Regions from separate parts of the Homo sapiens genome. Here region 1 is linked to region 2. The links come from fine-mapping of genetic effects on gene expression. A gene starts in region 2. The other region holds a variant in brackets. All regions are shown on one strand. Distances are from middle to middle.

What was found. PIP is the estimated chance that this variant, and not a neighbour inherited with it, causes the effect.
Region 1: its variant is the best candidate, but not a certain one, in a credible set for the expression of BANK1 in subcutaneous fat (TwinsUK, PIP 0.53).

What each region holds. Positions count from the first base shown.
Region 1 is chr4:101,845,937-101,851,328 of GRCh38, reverse strand. The region is part of intron 2 of BANK1 (B cell scaffold protein with ankyrin repeats 1); the gene reads right to left. Among named protein-coding and RNA genes, the nearest start is that of BANK1, 58 kb to the right of the region's middle. The variant T/C (reference allele first, on the strand shown) is at 2,678.
Region 2 is chr4:101,787,701-101,793,092 of GRCh38, reverse strand. BANK1 (B cell scaffold protein with ankyrin repeats 1) reads right to left here and starts at 2,363. Exons shown (of 17, transcript NM_017935.5): 1 at 2,143-2,363. The coding sequence starts at 2,212. RefSeq lists a silencer at 2,087-2,276.

The DNA.
Region 1 (5,392 bases), 58 kb before region 2:
ACTTTATTCTATCTACCACATGCCTTGCTCTGAAAAAGGCTTAAGGACATATTATGGCTGTTTTGATGTTCTATCCAGATCATTCAAACTTTCTCCACATCAGCAATAAAGTTGTTTTGCTTTCTTATCATTTGTGTGTTCACTGGAGTAGCACTTTTAATTTTCTTCAAGAACTTTTCCTTTGCACTCACAACTTGGCTAATTGTTTGAAGAAAGAATCCTAGCTTTCTACCTATATTGGCTTTTAACATGCCTTTCTCACTAAGCTTAATTATTTTTAGCTTTTTATTTTAAGCGAGAGATGTGTGACTCTTTCTTTCACTTGAACACTTGGAGGCCATTGTAGGCTTATTCATTGGCCTAATTTCAATAGTGTTTTGTCTCAGGGAATAGGGAGGCCCAAGCAGAGGGAGAGAGATGGGGGAATACCCAGTCAGTGAAGCAGTCAGAATACACAAAACGTCTATTGCTTAAATTCACTGTCTTGTATGGGTGCAGTCCATGGCACCCAAAACAATCACAATGGTAACACCAAAGATCATTTGTCACAGATCACCACAACAGACATAATGATAATGAAAAAAGTTTGAAATAGTGCAAGAATCACCAAAATGTGACACAGAAACATGAGGCAAGTGCATACTGTTGGAAGAATGGTGCCAATAGACTTGCTCAACAAAAGGTTGCCACAAACCTTCAATTTGTAAAAAATGCAGTGTCTGTGTAGCACAAAAAAGCAAAGCACAGGCCGGGCACGGTGGCTTATGCCTGTAATACCAGCACTTTGGGAGGCTGGGGCAGGCAGATCACTTGAGGTCAAGAGTTCGAGACCAGCCTGGCCAACATGGTGAAACCCCGTCCCTACCAAAAAATACAAAAAAAAAAAAAAATTAGTTGGGTGTCATGGCACACGCCTGTAATCCCAGCTACTTGGGAGGCTGAGACAGGAGAATTGCTTGGGCCCAGGAAGCAGAGGTTGCAGTGAGCCTAGATCACACCACTGTACTCCAGCCTGGGTGACAAAGCAAGACTCCCTCTCAAAAAAACAAACCAACCAACCAAACAAACAAACAAACAAAAAGACACCCAAACACAAATTCAAAGCAGAACAAATCAAGGTATGCTCATATTAAGTGCAATAATAAAAATATTTTATACTCTAATGAGTTTTTACAGTTTATCAAGACTTTTACTGACATTGTATTTCATTCTGAACACACCCTTAAAAATATAATCCCTATCCAGTGATGGATTACTGAATTTCTGTCAAACATTTAAAACTATTTGTAGACAGCTCTTATATTCTGTGAGTGAGAAACTGTTCCTCCTCAATAAAATGTGAAGCCAAATAGAATCTTTCTTTCCTCTTCTAACACTTTTCTAAAATGTGCAGAGAATATAGTATTTTGTATCAAACAGACATAGAAAACTAAAAAGCAGATAGAATTAACCTAGGAATAAAGTAACAGAGCCATAAGTAGTAAATTCAATAGAAAAATCCCAAATTTTCCAAAGTAAATAAATGACGAAGTTTTTCCGGCCCTTGGGTAGAAAATGAAACTTCACTGATGTTTAGATAACAATTTGAGTTAATTTTCCTTTTTATATAAGCTTTAAATAGTTTAGAAGGTAATTAGATAGACATAATCATATATATACACACACACAAATTTTATTGTGTATATATACACACACATAAATTTTTTTATATAGTATGTGTTAATACATACAAATTACCTATATTTCCATGTCCTAAGAATATGAGTGTGTGTATACATATATATGCTTATATATTTGTGTGTGTGTGTATATGTGTGTGTGTGCGTGTGTATCTCCATGTCCTAACTAAAAACGCCACCACCACTGTATGTTCATTGTTAAGCTAAAGACATGTATTGGGCATTCAGGTTGGCCTCCTCAGAAGTGGGTCTGAAACTTAAAATGGTGAAGAGAAGAGAGAGAACATTCTAGCCATTGGACCTATATTCTCATAACTCCTTTCTCCAGTCTCCATGAGATCCAGGAAGTGACCAGCACTCAATAACTATTGGTAAAATAAATGCATTATTGTATATCAACTGAACATACTTCAAGGAGATGAGGTTGGAAGAAGCGGATTAAGAGTAAAAAAGTACCAAACCTCTCTTTGAGAAAGGCCTACCTGCAATTGCCATGAGACTCCAGGAAGTAATGACAACTTTAATGTTTCAATTTCTGGTATTGCCTTCAGTACACTACAGGTTTTTACATGTAACTGTGGAACCTAGTGTGATAGGCTTAAGTAAAGTACAAGGGGGCTAAGTGCAGGGAAGTAAGAGCAAGGCATGTATGTCCAGCCCCAGTTGCCTCCGTGGCTCAGCAGATAAGGGGATAAGCCTATGATGCAGCTAGAACTTGGGGAGTGATTGCATCGCTGAAAGGGAGAGGTGGGAGGATGCTAGAAGGGCATAAACAAGATCCTGGAATGAGAGACTAGGAAGAGAATGAAGGGACATCCATCTCTAATGCCTAAAAGTTAGAGACCCTTGCCATTGCAAAAAGTATGAAAAAGAGGCTGTATATTAAAATTACCTATGTTTAAGTAACAATAGAATTGTTTTGTTCTGTTTTGTTTTTACTATCACGATTGAATAGCTAAATTAAATAATAAAGCATGAAGCAATTAACAAAATAATAT[T/C]ACTCTTCACTTTAAACTGCATGCCCTTGACACTGGATTGTATTTCTCTTATATCTCAAGTGCATGACTGTATTATCTTAGCAAATGGATCTAGTGCCTAATCTTTCCTTTCCCAGTGTAGCAAGGTAAACCTTAAGTTACTGTGTAGAAACTGGAGTGTTTTTAGTGATGACTTCTAGCTAGCAAGTGAAATGGAAGCCATAATTAATTTATTGCCTAAAAGAAAAAAAATTAAAATATGGGTTTGACCTAAAATGAATACCGGAGATCATGGCGGACAGGAGGAGGCAGGACTAGAGTGCAACTCCAGACAGAGCAGCAAGCGGGGGCTCGCATTGTGAATTTTAGCTCCAGATTAACTACAAGAACAAACCAGCAATCCCGAGAGGACCCACAGACCCTCTGGAGGAAGCGGACTGCTCCTACAGGACCCAGGAGACCCCCCCCAAAACTATGAGTGCCCCAACTGCGGAAGTGGGAAAGAGAGACCCTCCTCTCCCGAACACACAGCCCCACTGGAGAAGCTGAAGATCTGTTTGCGGGAGAAGTGTCTAACTTTCCCTGACTGAGTCAATTTGGAGAGCAGAGCAAAACACCGAGGTAGAGGAGGTAGCAGAAAGGCCCTGGGAGCTCACTGGGTTCCCAGGCAGCCATTCCTCGCTGGCGCCAAAGGGATCCATCAGGAAGATGGCCAGAGGAGCAGGGGGTAAAACTCCACAGGGAGAAGGAATTCTCTAGCTGAACTTTGTAACAATTTGAACGGGGCAAGAAGCTTCCTGGCCAGAACTCAGGGGAGGGAGCGAATCCGGCAAAATCGTGGAACCAACCCAAATGCCCATCAATCAACGAGTGGATAAAGAAACTGTGTGAGACATATGTGTGTGTGTGTGTGTGTGTGTGTGTGTGTGTGTGTGTATGATGGAATACTACGCAGACATAAAAAGGAATGAATTAACAGCATTTGCAGTGACCTGGATGAGATTGGAGACTATTATTCTAAGTGAAGTAACTCAGGAGTGGAAAACCAAACATCGTATGTTCTCAATGATATCTGGGAGCTAAGCTGCGAGGAGACAAAGGCATAAGAATGATGCAATGGATTTGAGGGACCTGTGGGAGTGAGGGATAGAAGACTACAAATATGGTGCAGTGTATATTGCTTGGGTGATGGGTGCACCAAAATCTTACAGATCACCACTAAAGAACTTACACATGTAACCAAATACCACCTGCACCCCAATAACTTATGGAAAAATTAAAAATAATAATAGTAAAAAAAACTAAAAAGAGACAAAATACAAAAATAAATACCCCAAACTTCTCATGAATATGAATAACAACTAACAACTACTGAACATTGACTATGTGCCAGTACTATTCTTAGTGCCTTGCATATATTAACTCACTATATACATACACACACACACACACACACACACACACACACACACACTCTGCCAACCCAAGAGGCAGGCAATAATATTATCCTTGTTATATGGATTTCTTTGAACAAATATTTACCAGCCAACTATGTACCAGGTGCTATTCAGGATGCAGAGGACATGGTGGTAAGCCTTCCTTCATACGACTTGCAATCTAATGAGGGGAGGCAAACGATATATGAGTAAAATCTGGAGCGCAGCAGATGCTGACAGGGAGGGTGAGGAAAAGGGATGGAAGTTGCCATTTTTAATAAGGAAAATAAGGTTCTGAGCAATAAATGAACTCTTCAAGGCCACACAGCTAGTTATTGCTGAAGTCAGGAGAATACCTAGCTAGTCAGACTTCAGAGAACCTTGATCACTACTAGATATGGTTTGGCTCTGTGTTCCTACACAAATCTCATCTCGAATTGTAATCCCCAGGTGTTAAGGGAGGAATCTGGTAGGAGGTGACTAGATCACGGGGGTGGTTTCCCCCATGCTGTTCTCATGATAGTGAGTCAGTTCTCACAAGATCTGCTTGTTTAAAACTGTAGCACTTCCCCTGCCCTCTCTATCTCCTGCTGCCATGTAAGATATTCCTTGCTTCCCCTTCACCTTCCACCATGATTTTAAGTTTCCTGAGGCCTTCTTGGCCATGCAGAACTGTGAGTTATTTAAATTACCCAGTCTTAAAAATTACCCAGTCTTCTTAAAAATTACCCAGTCTTAAAAATTACCCAGTCTTGAGTGTTCTTTATAGCAGTGTGAAAACAGACTAATACACTACCCTATACTGTTTCCCAACCCACAGTTTTATCCATGCATACAGCAGTCAATTTATCACAGGAATTATCTGATGGAATCAAAAACACAAAATTTTCAGAGCTGTTAAAAACAACATATCCTTGCAATAGTTTGCTGAGAATGATGGTTTCCAGCTTCATCCATGTCCCTACAAAGGACATGAACTCATCATTTTGTATGGCTGCATAGTATTCCATGGTATATATGTGCCACATTTTCTTAATCCAGTCTATCATTGTTGGACATTTGGGTTGGTTCCCAGTCTTTGCTATTGTGAACAGTGCGGCAATAAACATACGTGTGCCAAACACCACATGTTCTCACTCATAGGTGGGAATTGAACAATAGGAACACATGGACACAGGAAAGGGAACATCATACACTGGGGCCTGTTGTGGGGTGGGGGAAGGGGGGAGGGATAGCATTAGGAGGTATACCTAATGGTAAATGACGAGTTAATGGGTGCAGCACACCAACATGGCACATG
Region 2 (5,392 bases):
ATATCAATAAAAATTTAAAAAAAACTATGGTGTGGAGAAAAATCTGTGATTTAATAAATAATCACTCCCTAATTAAAACAGCAGTTAAAATTAAATTTTTAAAATCATTAGTTTTGGAATACAACAGGAAGAATCTCTCTTTTGGACATTGATAGTAATATATAGTTAAATACAAACCAGAAAATACATTCTAACTAGAACTTTCACCCATTGTGCATCATTTTTACCTTGTTTTAGAGAACTGGGTATTCTATTTTTCTTGCTTCCATTAAAGAACAAGTCGATACTCAACAGTTAATAAATCTCTGATGGCAGTATACACTAATGTTGTCTAGCAGTACATTCTATCTCCTGCTAGAAATATACCTTCCTGGGCATGAAACTGTGTTTACCATTTTACATTCTTATTACTACTACATGACTCTTGGCAGGGAATAAAAGTTTGTTAAGTTAATGAATGGGTGACCTTCAAATAATTACTAGTTATGAAACCATGAGCAACTCACACTCTGGATCTCAGTGCTCTCTTCTCTAAATGAGGCAGTTGGACCAATTGACCCCCAATGTGCCATATTAAGATAGTTGTTGGAGAGAGAGGGAGCTCTTCATTAAAAAAAAAAAAACACACACACACACACACACACACACACAAACCACTGGATTTATAAAAGCTAGAAGATTACTCATATCAAGAATATGGGCATGGGATAATGTCAAAAGACAATTCGTTTTTAGAAAAGTTTCATTATGTTGGCCAGAAAAGGAAGTAACTGAAGCAAGTGATAAATACTGCATGGAGAAGGACCCAAGGAGTTGGGAGGGGCGGGGCGGGGGGGGAGCGGAATGCATGGGAGGAACAAGAATAATTGGAATGCTATAAATATTGATTCACATTACTCTTGCATTATTCACAATAGCAAGTGCCTCAAAGTATTGCTTAGTATCAAGTGAAATAAAAGGCATTTTCTGCCTAAACTGTTTAATCTAGAAGTTTGAAACAAACTGTACCCCATTCTCTAACAAAATTGTTAAACTGAAATTACAAAAGAGGTAACCTGCTCAAAGTTTGAAAGACATGGTTGGTTTATTTATAGATGCTAGCAAAGTCTGCTCTGCTGAAGACCATCAGAGCCACAGTTTTCAAGAATGTCAATATGCAATAGTTAAAATATTAATAATATTAAGTTATGGGCTCTAAGTCCTTTCTTGTCACTTTTCATTGACACAAATATACTTCTTATTTAACTGAAAGCAATCCCTAAAGCTTATTTATGTAAAAATGCACTAGCCAACAGAAATAGCTACAACCAAAATTACATTACCTAAAAAATTCTAGAAAGGTATGAGAAATTTATTTCTATTCAGCAAATTAAGAAACTTTCACTCAGAATATACTTTCTTGTTGCATTTCTCACCACGAACACTCCAGTAATATTAATACCTAAGTGAAGTTTTTTAATTTAAAAAACATTTTTATATCACTGAGTAATTTGCAAATGCATTTGAAATGCTTCAAAAAGAACTAAATAAAACTGCCTTAACGTCCATTTGAAAATATAAATCTACTTCTGCATTCAACCAAGTTGACCGTTTTCCTTTGACCAAGTTAGTAAAGCCAGTGGAGTAGGGAGGTGGTGTTGGTAGAGTTTCTCTGCAAAGCCACCTGCCAAGAAGCAGGGCTACCAATTCACCAGGCTGGGATTTGTCAGGCCGGGCAGGTAAATGCGTGACGCTACACATGAGCGGTTTTTCTGTGCTTACCGACTGTTGAAAATAATTACGTATAATTTTAAACGCGCATTGCTTTAAAACAGGTTGCAAAGTGATTTTAGAAACTACAGGACCCTGACCCGGGTGCTGGGGAAAGTTCCAGCTCCTCAGAAGTTGCAGACACTGAGGGTAGCCCGCTGGCCAGAACTCCCAGCGCGCTCCCTCCTCGTGGCGTCCAGATGCCCCTCAGAGAAGTCAGGGACAGAAGAACCCTCTGGGCTGCCTGGCGGCAGGATAAAAAGGAGAAGCCCTGTCTCAGGGACGCCCTGGCCTCAGTGCCCGAGTGCAGTTGTCTAACGATGGCCCGTGGTCTCCGCAGAGCCCCGTAGCCCGGCCTCGGCGTCAAGCCCCTCCGAATGCGCGACTACCCACCTGGGGGCGCTGGGCCGCAGGGGGCGGGGTCCGGGCTCCCAAGCCCCTTGCCTGGCGCTGCTGGCAGCATTGTGGCGGTTGAAGCCGAGGGGCCTGCGCACTGCTGCCCGCCGAGCGCTACCTGGACTCTCCCGGCCAGAGACTCCCCGCGATTTTCTCTTCCTTTGGCCCTCGGCTCTCCCCAGCCCGCTTGCCACCCGCGGAGGCTGCGGCCAGGTCTCAGGAAACGCAGCCCCGGGGCTCATGCCCGCAAGGCCAGGGCTCCGCTCTGCTGGGCGCCCAGAGGAAGTGAAACTGCTCAGGGGCCTGCTCTTACATCCCTTCTCAAAAGGCCGCTTTGGTTTCTTATAACACTTCTGCGCCTGTTTCCTTCCTCACCTTTTCATCCTAGGATATATTTAGACCGCTGTTATTGTAGCTCTCCTTGTCCCTTTCTAGGTCTTCCATACTGCCATACTGCCCCCACTTCCAGGCAGACGTAGGGAAACCAGAAGTGAACATTTGCTGGAAAGAAAGAATAATTAGATAGATAGATGAGTAGGTACACAGATGATAGATACATACATATAGAAATGAAGATACAGATAATACTGTAACTTTTAAAATATTTCATTTTACACAGACTTTCTAGGCTAGGTTCATAAATTGAAAAGTGATTTAAAATTCCATATAAAATGTATTTCTTACTCCTGCTCCAACTCAAAAATAGACCCAGTAAAAAATTATTTATGGCTCTAAATACCCTCTCCAAACAAGAGTTTGTTTGCTTGTTTTTAAGATGGAGATATATCAAAGGAGTTGTCCCAGAACCTTAAAGTGAATGTCTCTCTCTCAAGCATGTCTAAACTAGTCATTTGCCTTTTGAAGTTGAATATATTTTTTGAATATCAATTTGGTAATAATACATAGTTTAAATGTTCCTCTCCTCTTCCTATAAAAGGAAGGCTTTCTTTGAAACTTTCTCTCGGATGAAGTGCTTTTTAGTAATAATATAAATATCAAGTATCAAAAAAAGTTAATTTTTTCACATAAATGAACTTATTAGAACTTTATAACATAATGTAGAAAACTTGGAGAAGTATGCGAAATGTCCAAAAAACTTGAAAACAATTATAGATTGTATTGTATTTATCTGGTTTCCAGTAGTTTCTTTAACATCATTATTAATTTTATGTTGATTTTCTGAACTTTATATAATGGAACAAAAGATTTCATCTAACTTATGAAATATTATATTGAAAAAAATGGTTGTCTTCTATATATGCCTGTTAACAGAGAGACTTCAGTGTAATAGGCAAAAACAAATTTGGATTGCAGGGTTTGGGTGTTGTTCAGTGTTTCAGAAACTCAATTCTTAGGAAAGTATGTCTTAAACCCATTGGAGAAAAGAATATTCTAACTGATGCATCTGCTGGTATACGTATTCCTGACAAGAGCTACTTTAGCCAACATGAACACTCCAGATGATGCTCCCCAATTAAGTATCCAGATCTTCAAAGGCACCCATTTATGCACACGAAAACTTGTTAATAAAGACAGTGTTCAGATAGGAACTTGTATCTGTCACATATACAGGACAGCCTTCTTGTATGAAGAGCCCTGGATTGGAAGTCAGAAGGTTGCAGCTGCCATCCTGACTCTGCTCCACAATATCTGGGTGTTTGGAGCAATTCTTAATATTTCTGAGCCTTGCGTATCTCATCTAATTTATTCATTATTAATGAATAAATTAAAATTACTGTATTCGAGTTTCTGCCAGATATAAAATGTTATAACACTGTCTCCTAATAAAACTATAGAAAATAAGATTTATAATATGAAAATTAAGTATATTTTCAGAAGCTCATTTCCACTACTTATGTCAAATGATGCTAGTAAATAGAAAAAAGAAAGTAAAAACTGCTGAAAATTGTGGGCTGTTTTTTTTTTAAAAAAAATAAGATTATGTGTTAGAAAATCTTTAAAATCTCCCATTAAAATTATTCTAGCTTCACTTTTCTTTTGAATAAGAAAATAGCCATTGACTACCCCATTGACTGACTTATTTATTCTTTTGTTTTACTGTTTGCAGTCAACAACTACTCTTTTTTTAAGTATTCTATATCCTATGTTCTATGTAAGAGTTTCACAATATTCATGTCATTTGGTTCTCAAAACAAGGAAGGTTTAACCATATTTTACAAATGAAGAATCTGGGCGTTGAAAACTGTAAGTGGCAGAGCTGGAATTCAATCCTAGATCTGATTTCATAGCCTGCCCTCTTAATTATAACTGCCCCCCTCCCCACCGCTTCCTTTTAAGGTCACATAAGGCCCTTGCTAAAGATTACATGAACATAATAGGATAGGTTATACATATATGTGTTGAAAACGTTTTTTGTTTCCCTATCCACTTTTCCACAGAACTATAAGCCCATACAATTAAATACTAATATCCTTAAAAATAGGTATGAACTGTACTTATAATTTATTACAATTTTGGTGCTATTTGGTTGAGGATATATAGATGTTCACACACGCGCACACACACACATACACGTGATAACTTAAGTCTACATGTTTTCATACTTTGCTGATGCATTTATAAAAATATATTTTAAAAGATTTTTTACTCATTTTGGTCTTGTTTCTGTGTCAAGTACGTCTTTAATCACAGTTGACTTTATTTTTCCCCTGCTTTCTCCCTTAAGGAGATGATACCATCTGGAATGTTGGGTTATCTCTTGGTTCATACTTGTTCTCAGGAAAGAGGCACTTAGCAATTCTCACACCGAGAGGCTTTTTCAGGCAAAATACCACCAGCAGTGTGTAATCGCAGGTTTCTGATTTTACCTCTGTTACAGAATGACAAGAAAATGCTAGTCACAGTAGGTTTCTCATTTCTCAATATATCAAACTCTTGGATCCATTGACTTCTTCCCTTGCATTATTTTTTTTAGCGGCATATTGACAGCCTCAATATTATTACCCCACTCTGTGAAGATTATAAAAGCCTCACACTGGCCCTGTGTTCCAATAAATGGACAGCTAAAGCTGTTTGGTGTTGCCCTGCAGTTGCCATGGCTGATTTCTTGTGTCCTTTGCAGACCAGATGCTGTTGTGCATGCTAATGGCTTTATTTCTGCCTTTAGATTCTGGATATGTTTAAAGAACAAAACTGGTTCTTTTCTAAAGCAGTAATCTATTGTAAAAGTGAAATAGTTGCTTCTTCATGGCTATTTGTTAATTGGGGAATATTCCTCTTGACAATC